Homo sapiens: one gene and its partner. The protein of the gene in region 2 interacts with the protein of the main gene of each other region in a pairwise test. Each region holds a gene or a part of one and is shown on either strand. Other genes may lie near its edges.

Region 1 (3,830 bases), on a different chromosome or scaffold from region 2:
TGGACAGTGGCATGAAAAGTTAGAGCAGATATCATTGAGAATATGTAATTCTTCAGATATAAAATGCAAGTGGAATCTTACTTCCTTTATAATGAAAAAGTTTCTAACTGGGTCTAGTCATCCAGAGATACTTTGTAAGCTAGACATCTGTCTTATACAGTTTTTTATAACCTATACCTTGATAAAGAGAAATAGTCTAACTGAAAACCAAAAATTTCTATTCCTGAGTAGAAATCAAAGAGGAAAGTCTCTAGAGTTTTACGAGTGTAATGATAAAATTAATATTTCCCATTAATAACTCCTACAGATACTCAGTAAGTGCAATGGTGAGAAAAAGGATAGCGAAGTAGATAAAAATAGAGGGAAGAGACACAACAAATGAGGAGATGAACACACAAAATGGGGAAAGAGAACACACACACAAAATTAACCAAGAAAAAGGTATGAGAGACCTCTCACTTAGTGAACATTTACCATATGCCAGACTCTATGCTGGGTACTTCATGTTCTATTCTATTTCATCGGTAAGTAAGATAAGGGGTAAATCATGTTAGGCCACTTTCTAGGTTAAAATTCTGAATGGGCAGTTTACCTAAACCCCTAGATTCTAGAGTGAAACCCGTCAGCCTGGTGTTAAGTTTCAAACTCTGCTCGTACTCAAAGATTTCTGAAAGAGGAAACTTGCTCAATGGTCCACATTCCCTTAGCTCAGAAAAAAACATTGCACAATTTTTCAGAAACCCACTGGGTGTGATCTTGGATGTCATTACCACCTGATAATTATCCAGGTGAAAGTAACAAGTGTGAACCATGCACCCTGCACAAGTGGGCATTGTGAAGTACCAGTGGTTCATGTTCTCATATTCAACCAACAAGCCAACCAAACACCAGTCAATTAATAAAACCAATCAGTTAATAAACATTTCTTATGGTCCTACTTTATCACCCAAAAAATTTACACAAAGTCAAACACTTCAACAAAAAAGTCAATGAAACATCCCACTACTTTGTTAAATAATTATAAACATTGTAACTGAATGATCGAATTTTTTTTTTCATGAAGATGTCTGTAACATTACTATTAGTTCACTTATAGGAAAGAACTATCCATAAAATCATATAATTTTAAAACTCGGTATTTTTCCTGGGTATTCTTGAATATCCACAGTAGGGCTAAATCTGTGTCAATGTCTAAGAAAGGTTAGTCAACATTCTTAGATATTGAGACAGTAAATATATATATATATATATATATATATATATATATAATAAGTATACATGAATATTATATACAAAAATACTTAAGCTCTGCTCTCTTTTTTGGAAAGTATAAGTATACATACTTTTTTCCAAAAAAAAGAGCAGAGTTTAACTTAAGTATTTTTGACTCATTTTGTAAAATCAAATAGCAAACAGCAATGTTAGAGTGAAAAGTTCAATTTCAGCATGGGAATTAATAGGCCTGTTCTAAAACCTCATTTCATCATATAGGGGGTATAAAGTTCATAGCCTCAGATTGGTCACAGAAAACCTTAGGCTGAGAGGATTCCCAGGTGATGGACTTGATTGAGTTTCTCTGAAGGCCTGACGTTCTCTCTGATCTCCCTGGTGACCCCAAGAGGCCAGGGAATCCTAGGGACCTGGAGATCCTAAATGACTGAGCTGTCAGCAATCTCTTGCGTAATTACAGCCTTACGTCAGGAACTAAAGAGTGACTGCGAAAGGAGTTGTTTTAGGAATTTGGAGAAGCTAAGGGTTGTTTGCTTTTCTAGTATTGGTCTACTGAAATGTTTGCAGAGAAAAATGCTGGTGCCAGGCAGGCATCGCATAATCAGATACAATTGATTATTATGAAGCTTAAATGCACTAAACATATTGAACTTCCCTTTTCAAGTCATGGAAAAATACTGGGCTAAACTATTAAAACTGGGAATAAACAATGTGAGGAGTAGCATAAAAATGTGAGTCATTTAAAAAATGGATTTAATATCAGGCTTTGTGAATTATATTTGATGTTTGACCAATCATGCTCTCGTATCTTTAGGAGAAACAATGAACTGTCTGTGATATGCAGAAACAATCAAGGAAAAAGTACCATTTTATTTCTGTGTAATAGCTACATAACCTATGCAGAAAACACAAAATGATTGTGGAAAAATGAGAAATAAAATAATTTTTCGTTGTCATTTTAAAGCAGTAGTTTATGAGTGTGTGTGGCCTTTTGTAAGCTTTTAGAAAGAGTTCCTGTGGGCATGTGTGTTTGTTTGTGTCCAGGGTTGCTGTTTCTAGATCCAGTACACAAATGTCTCTCTTCTTTCAGATAACACCCAGAAGACCTGTACACTTTTTAACGAGGTGGTGCAGTGCCCTTGACCCTATTTTATCAGCTGTCAACAACTAGAGGCCCACATCCCCCTTTGTAAAGAGTATTTCTCAATAAGTTATTATATGAGCAGCAACTGGCGAGTACAGCTTGTGATGTTAGAAATGCTAGTAATTCCCTTACCTCTTCCTTCTCAGCACTTTGCAGGTCACGCCATTCCTCAGTTACATGGCCAAAATCCACTGTGTTCATAGGGACTTTAAATTCTCCAATGATGTCATGCTTAGAGAAACGATCAAAATCATATACAGCCATCACTAGGGTTTTGCCACCCAATTCCGAGTATGGTACCTAAATTAAAAGACATGAGGATAAAATATCCAGTCACAAAAATGCTTAAAACATGTTACTTGTTCATGGTGCTTAATTTAATATTTACGTTGCATAAACAGAACAGGGAGATAATTTTGTTTTTGGTTATTTTTTAAATTCAGACTTTTGACAAACTGCTTGAGGCTAAAATTACTTGAGAGAAAATGGGAAATTTTAGTGATTTATTGCCTTATCTCAAAGTTCTAGAAGCTGTTAGCATTATTAATAATGGATCCTGCTGTTAGTTATACTATAAAGCCTTAAGATTAATAAAACAATAAACAAGCCAATTGCATTTGACTATAAGTAAGTTTTTCTTGTAGAATATTTTGTTGTTATTGTTGTTTTAAGTTGTATTGTCAGGGTGTAACTTACTGAGGGGCAAATAACTTATTTCAAATGCTCCATTAACTCTTTCAAGGCATTTAAATGCCACAGTTCAATGGAGCAATGATTTATTAAAGGCTATGCTAGGAGTCTGAAAGGATTGAAATGATATTCACAAGTGCCTCACCTACTCCCTAAAATAATTTGCTGATTGACAAGAACTGACTAGGAAATTGATGTTTTGAATATAAGAGGTGCATTATAATATGGGTTTTGAAGTTCATTCTTGGGTATGACATGCCTTAGGATGAGTGGTGGCAAAAGGCCAAGAACTGATGAATTCTCCAGCTGTTCAAATATATCTGGGACAGATGCTATGGGTTGGGATGTTTATTAGTGACATTTTTAATATTCAGTGAAAGCAGTGCAATCCAAGTAAGCTACACTTCAGTAACTGGGTAGAAATACCTAATTAAGAAATTGTTTAGACTTGTCTTAAAGGTTTGATCAATTTTCATACACTTCCTATTATTTTATCAGTGTAAATGGTTGTCTTATGCTTCAGCAAACATTTCTCAATTAACTCTGTATATTAAGGAGGGAAGAAAAGGAAGAATATTGGGCCATCTACATACAAGAAATTTTAGTTTTCCAAAGAGTTTTTCTTTTCTGTCATTTATTTACCATCTGTTTGGAACCTGATTATTTTATTAAAATGATATGATTAAAAAGTAAGCATCATCCTTTTTCCATTTTAGAAGGAATGGAAAATAAACCCTTCCAAAGAGCTGACTCTCAAAGAAAGAAA
Region 2 (3,830 bases):
TTCATTTGACAGGTCACAGACTGTGCCTTTAACCTCAGGTGCCTCACAATGAAGTGTCAATTGTTACTGGGAGAAGAAATAGGCCACAGAATAAAGGGCAACACATTAACTCATTAGTGAAACAGGGAGAACCACTCTAGGTGGATGTCTTAGCAGTGATGAGTCAAGATTGTTGTATTCAATATAAAAGTGCAACATTGCATTTCTACGTACATTACAGAAGTGTATTGCTTCATGCATCTATTTCTCATTCTGTAATGTACAATTCAGAGCCAATCCACACTAGTCAATAGTAATGTACACTCAGATCAGCCCATGGGAAGTGAAACAAGGCATGAAATAGTCCTAATGCATGCGTATGTGCTGTACATTACCACAGTACATTTTTCATGTTCATTTCTAGTTTCAAAAGCTATTCATTTGCATGACAGTTTTTCTGCTTACAAAGATGCAATTTTGTAACAGAGTAATACAGCTATAATAGCATTTCAGAGAGTGCCATTTATCTCAGAGTTAACTCTGTATGATCGACAATTAAGACTATCATTATAATCCATTAAAACAAAACTCATCATGATACAAGAGGGCTCAATTGACTACATGTTCCTCAGTTTGCTGCGGGTTTGGCCACATTCCAGCAGCTACTTGATGAATGGTAAATAATAATTGATGTAGAAAGGCAGGCTCATTTTGTACCATAAGGTCTCTGGTTCCCTATCTCTACCTCTGAGTGCAATACCAGAACAGCAGAAGGGAGAACCTCTTGATCCTGTGTTCGTCACCAGCTTCCCTAAAGGACACGTGCCACAGCCACTTACAAAGGTGGGCACCTGCACAGCCCCAAGAAAACTCAGGGATCAGTTACTGTTTCTGAACAGAGCAGCTCTACTTATATCCACATTGTCTTGTGCAAGGTAGAGAGCAGGCCTAGCAACCTGGGTGCGGCAGGATTAATTAAGGGCAGCTGAAAGGCCTATCTGCACCTATATATCTTACTTAGCTATTGTGTAATCCTTAAGAAGTGGCATTAAGAAGTAATGGAGGGGCCAGGAGTGGTGGCTCATGATGGTAATTTCAACATTTTGGGAGGCCAAGGCAGGAAGATTGCTTGAAGCCAGGAGTTTGAGATCATCCTGGGCAACAAAGTGAGACACTGACACTGTCTCTACAATTTTTTTTTTTTAATTATCCATGTGTGTGGTATGTGCCTGTAGTCCCAGCTATTTGGGAGGCTGAGGCAGCAGGACTGCATAAGCCCATGAGTCCAGGAATTTGAGGCTGTAGTGAGCTATGATCATATCACTGCATTCCAGCCTGAACAACAGAGTGAGACTATGTCTCTAAAAAAAAGTAATGGGCAGGTGCATTGAGTAGGCATTACGTTTGCCAGCAGAGTTTAGACATAGGAGGAGTTAATTTACCTAAGTAAAATCCACTGTAAATTCACAGACAGCATAATTCTCAGGAAATTGTCAGTCTCTGGGTAGTTTTCTCTAGGATAGATCATAATTAGATAATATTTAAGATTTTTAAATATAATGTGCACATAGTGTTCCCTCTTCAGATTAAGGATGACTCCAGTCTCCATCCTAATCAAGTTCCCATAGAATTTTACATGTAAGGTTGTAAAAAGCATGAGTGAAAAAGTGACAATACCTGTAACCCAGAAATTGCTGTGGGATATGGTGAGAGTGCCGTGGAGCCCAAATTCCTTCCCAGCAGCGGGGTCATGGGTGTGCTACTGGTTGTGTGGGTGGCACGCCAGTACGCCTCCAGGTACTCCCCTAGATGTTCACATGCATCCTCAAGCTGATTTTCATCCAATATAACATCAAACATTTCCTGTAGATGACAAGAAAATCCACTTTACTTCCATTTTAGGTTTTAGGCAATGAAACCTAAAATTCCACTTAACACAGATAATAGCATTTTTAATAGCTATTAGCTAAAATCAAATTTGAGGTGCTATATGGGCAGTTTCTAAAGTTAGGGTCAAGTGAAGAGTTACACAGTTATCCATGAACGAATGTAGACATTAATATAAAAATGAAAGTGTTCATTCAATATTTGGATCTTTTTTTTTTTTTTTTTTTTTTTTTTTTAAGACGGAGTCTCATTCTGTTGCCCAGGCTGAAATGCAATGGCACGATCTCGGCTCAATGCAACCTCTGTCCACTGAGTTCAAGCAATTCTCCTGCCTCAGCCTCCCAAGTAGCTGGGATTACAGGCGCCTGCCACTGCGTCCAGCTAATTTTTTTGTATTTTTTTTAGAAGAGATGGGGTTTCACCATCTTGGCCAGGCTGGTCTTGAACTCTTGACCTAGTGATCCACCTGCCTTGGCTCCCAAAGTGCTGGGATTACAGGCATGAGCCACAGCGCCCAGCCGGATTTTTCATTATTTAGAAAGAAAAAGATGAAGTAAGTGTAAATGTGTTACAGGTAAAATATGACAAAAACCCACGTGTATTCACATCTTTAGCCATGTATTCCTATAGAGCTGCACTCTACACACTTTGGAATATGAGAGAAGCAAGTTTGTGGCACTGAGAAGGGAGTTCTAGACATGTTTTGGGCAATGACCACATCAATGGAATAAACATTTTTTCTCCTAAGGTAACTATGTTGAAGGGAATAACATTTACTTAGGTAATTTTCAGAATGCTTGTGAAAATAACATTATCTGTTTTATGATAAAACAATAAGGAAAGAAAGTTTAGGATTAATAACAGAAAACCACATGGCAGTGGTTTCTGCTACCACAAGATCATTTTGTGAAATGGTTAAAAAAGAACAAGGGGTGTTTAGTTAGGGAAAGCAGGGGGTCACAAAAGAAGTATCTGCTGTCCACGTTTCGGACAGTAAGGCCATTGTTCAACATCTGGTCTGTACTCAGGAAGTTGTTCTGTTCCAGAGGAGCAGGGTGGCCCCCCTGTCATTGCAGTGTGGCTGGGAACACAGACAGGATATACCCCAGACATATACTCTTCAGAGGGAAACCAGAAAACTTTGGCACCACACAAAGAGAAAAGTCATTCCACAGGTAAGTGTTAGCACATCTCAACTTTCTTTCTTTCTTTCTTTTTCTTTGAGACAGTGTTGCTCTGTGGCCCAGGCCAGGGTGCACTGGAGCAAACACAACTCACTGCAGCCTGGAACACCTGGGCTCTAGCGATCCTCCCACCTCGGCTTCCTGAGTAGCTGGGACCACAGGCATGCACCACTGTGCCTGGCTAACTTTTTTAACTTTTTGTAGAGATGAGATCTCACCATGTTGCCCAGGCTGGTCTCAAACTCCTGGGCTCCAGCGATCCTCCTGCCTCGGCCTCCCAAAGTGCTGGGATTACAGACGTGAGTCACCACACCCGGCTCACATCTCAACTTTCAATAGTAGGATTGACCTTTCCCACCACCTTCATCTGCTTTTATGAACTCATTTTACCAAAATAAGAACCTCCCAGGAATGAATCAAAGACAGGGTCACTGCCATCGGCACTGATAAAGCTGGCTGAAATTAGGTTAATGGCAACTGGATGATGTGAAGTTAGTGGTGTCTCAGTTCAGTCATTCTCTTCTGTGCTTAGAACAAGGACTCCTGAAGCAGAAGTCACCATGGAAACAATCTCTCTCCCAACATTTACTATTTAAATGTTTCATCACATCAATTTTTATGGAAAATTTTGGCCTTAAATTGGAAAGCCATTTGGGGTTCTTGGAACAAGACTAGGAAAAGAATAAGATGACTTCAGTCCAAATGGACTCATGTTTGAGAAGACTTAGCCAGTTCAACTCATGTAGAAAATTCCCCCCAACCAAGAACAGTTATTAGTAG

What was found.
Region 1: the proteins of CACNB4 (region 2) and SYT1 interact in a two-hybrid assay, tested with the Homo sapiens proteins (one study listed by IntAct).

What each region holds. Positions count from the first base shown.
Region 1 is NC_000012.12:79,298,228-79,302,057, reverse strand, and holds part of SYT1 (synaptotagmin-1), read right to left. Parts: intron 2,675-3,830; coding exon 2,507-2,674; intron 1-2,506. UniProt on the Homo sapiens protein: Calcium sensor that participates in triggering neurotransmitter release at the synapse. May have a regulatory role in the membrane interactions during trafficking of synaptic vesicles at the active zone of the synapse.
Region 2 is NC_000002.12:151,840,247-151,844,076, forward strand, and holds part of CACNB4 (voltage-dependent L-type calcium channel subunit beta-4), read right to left. Parts: intron 1,843-3,830; coding exon 1,657-1,842; intron 1-1,656. UniProt on the Homo sapiens protein: The beta subunit of voltage-dependent calcium channels contributes to the function of the calcium channel by increasing peak calcium current, shifting the voltage dependencies of activation and inactivation, modulating G protein inhibition and controlling the alpha-1 subunit membrane targeting.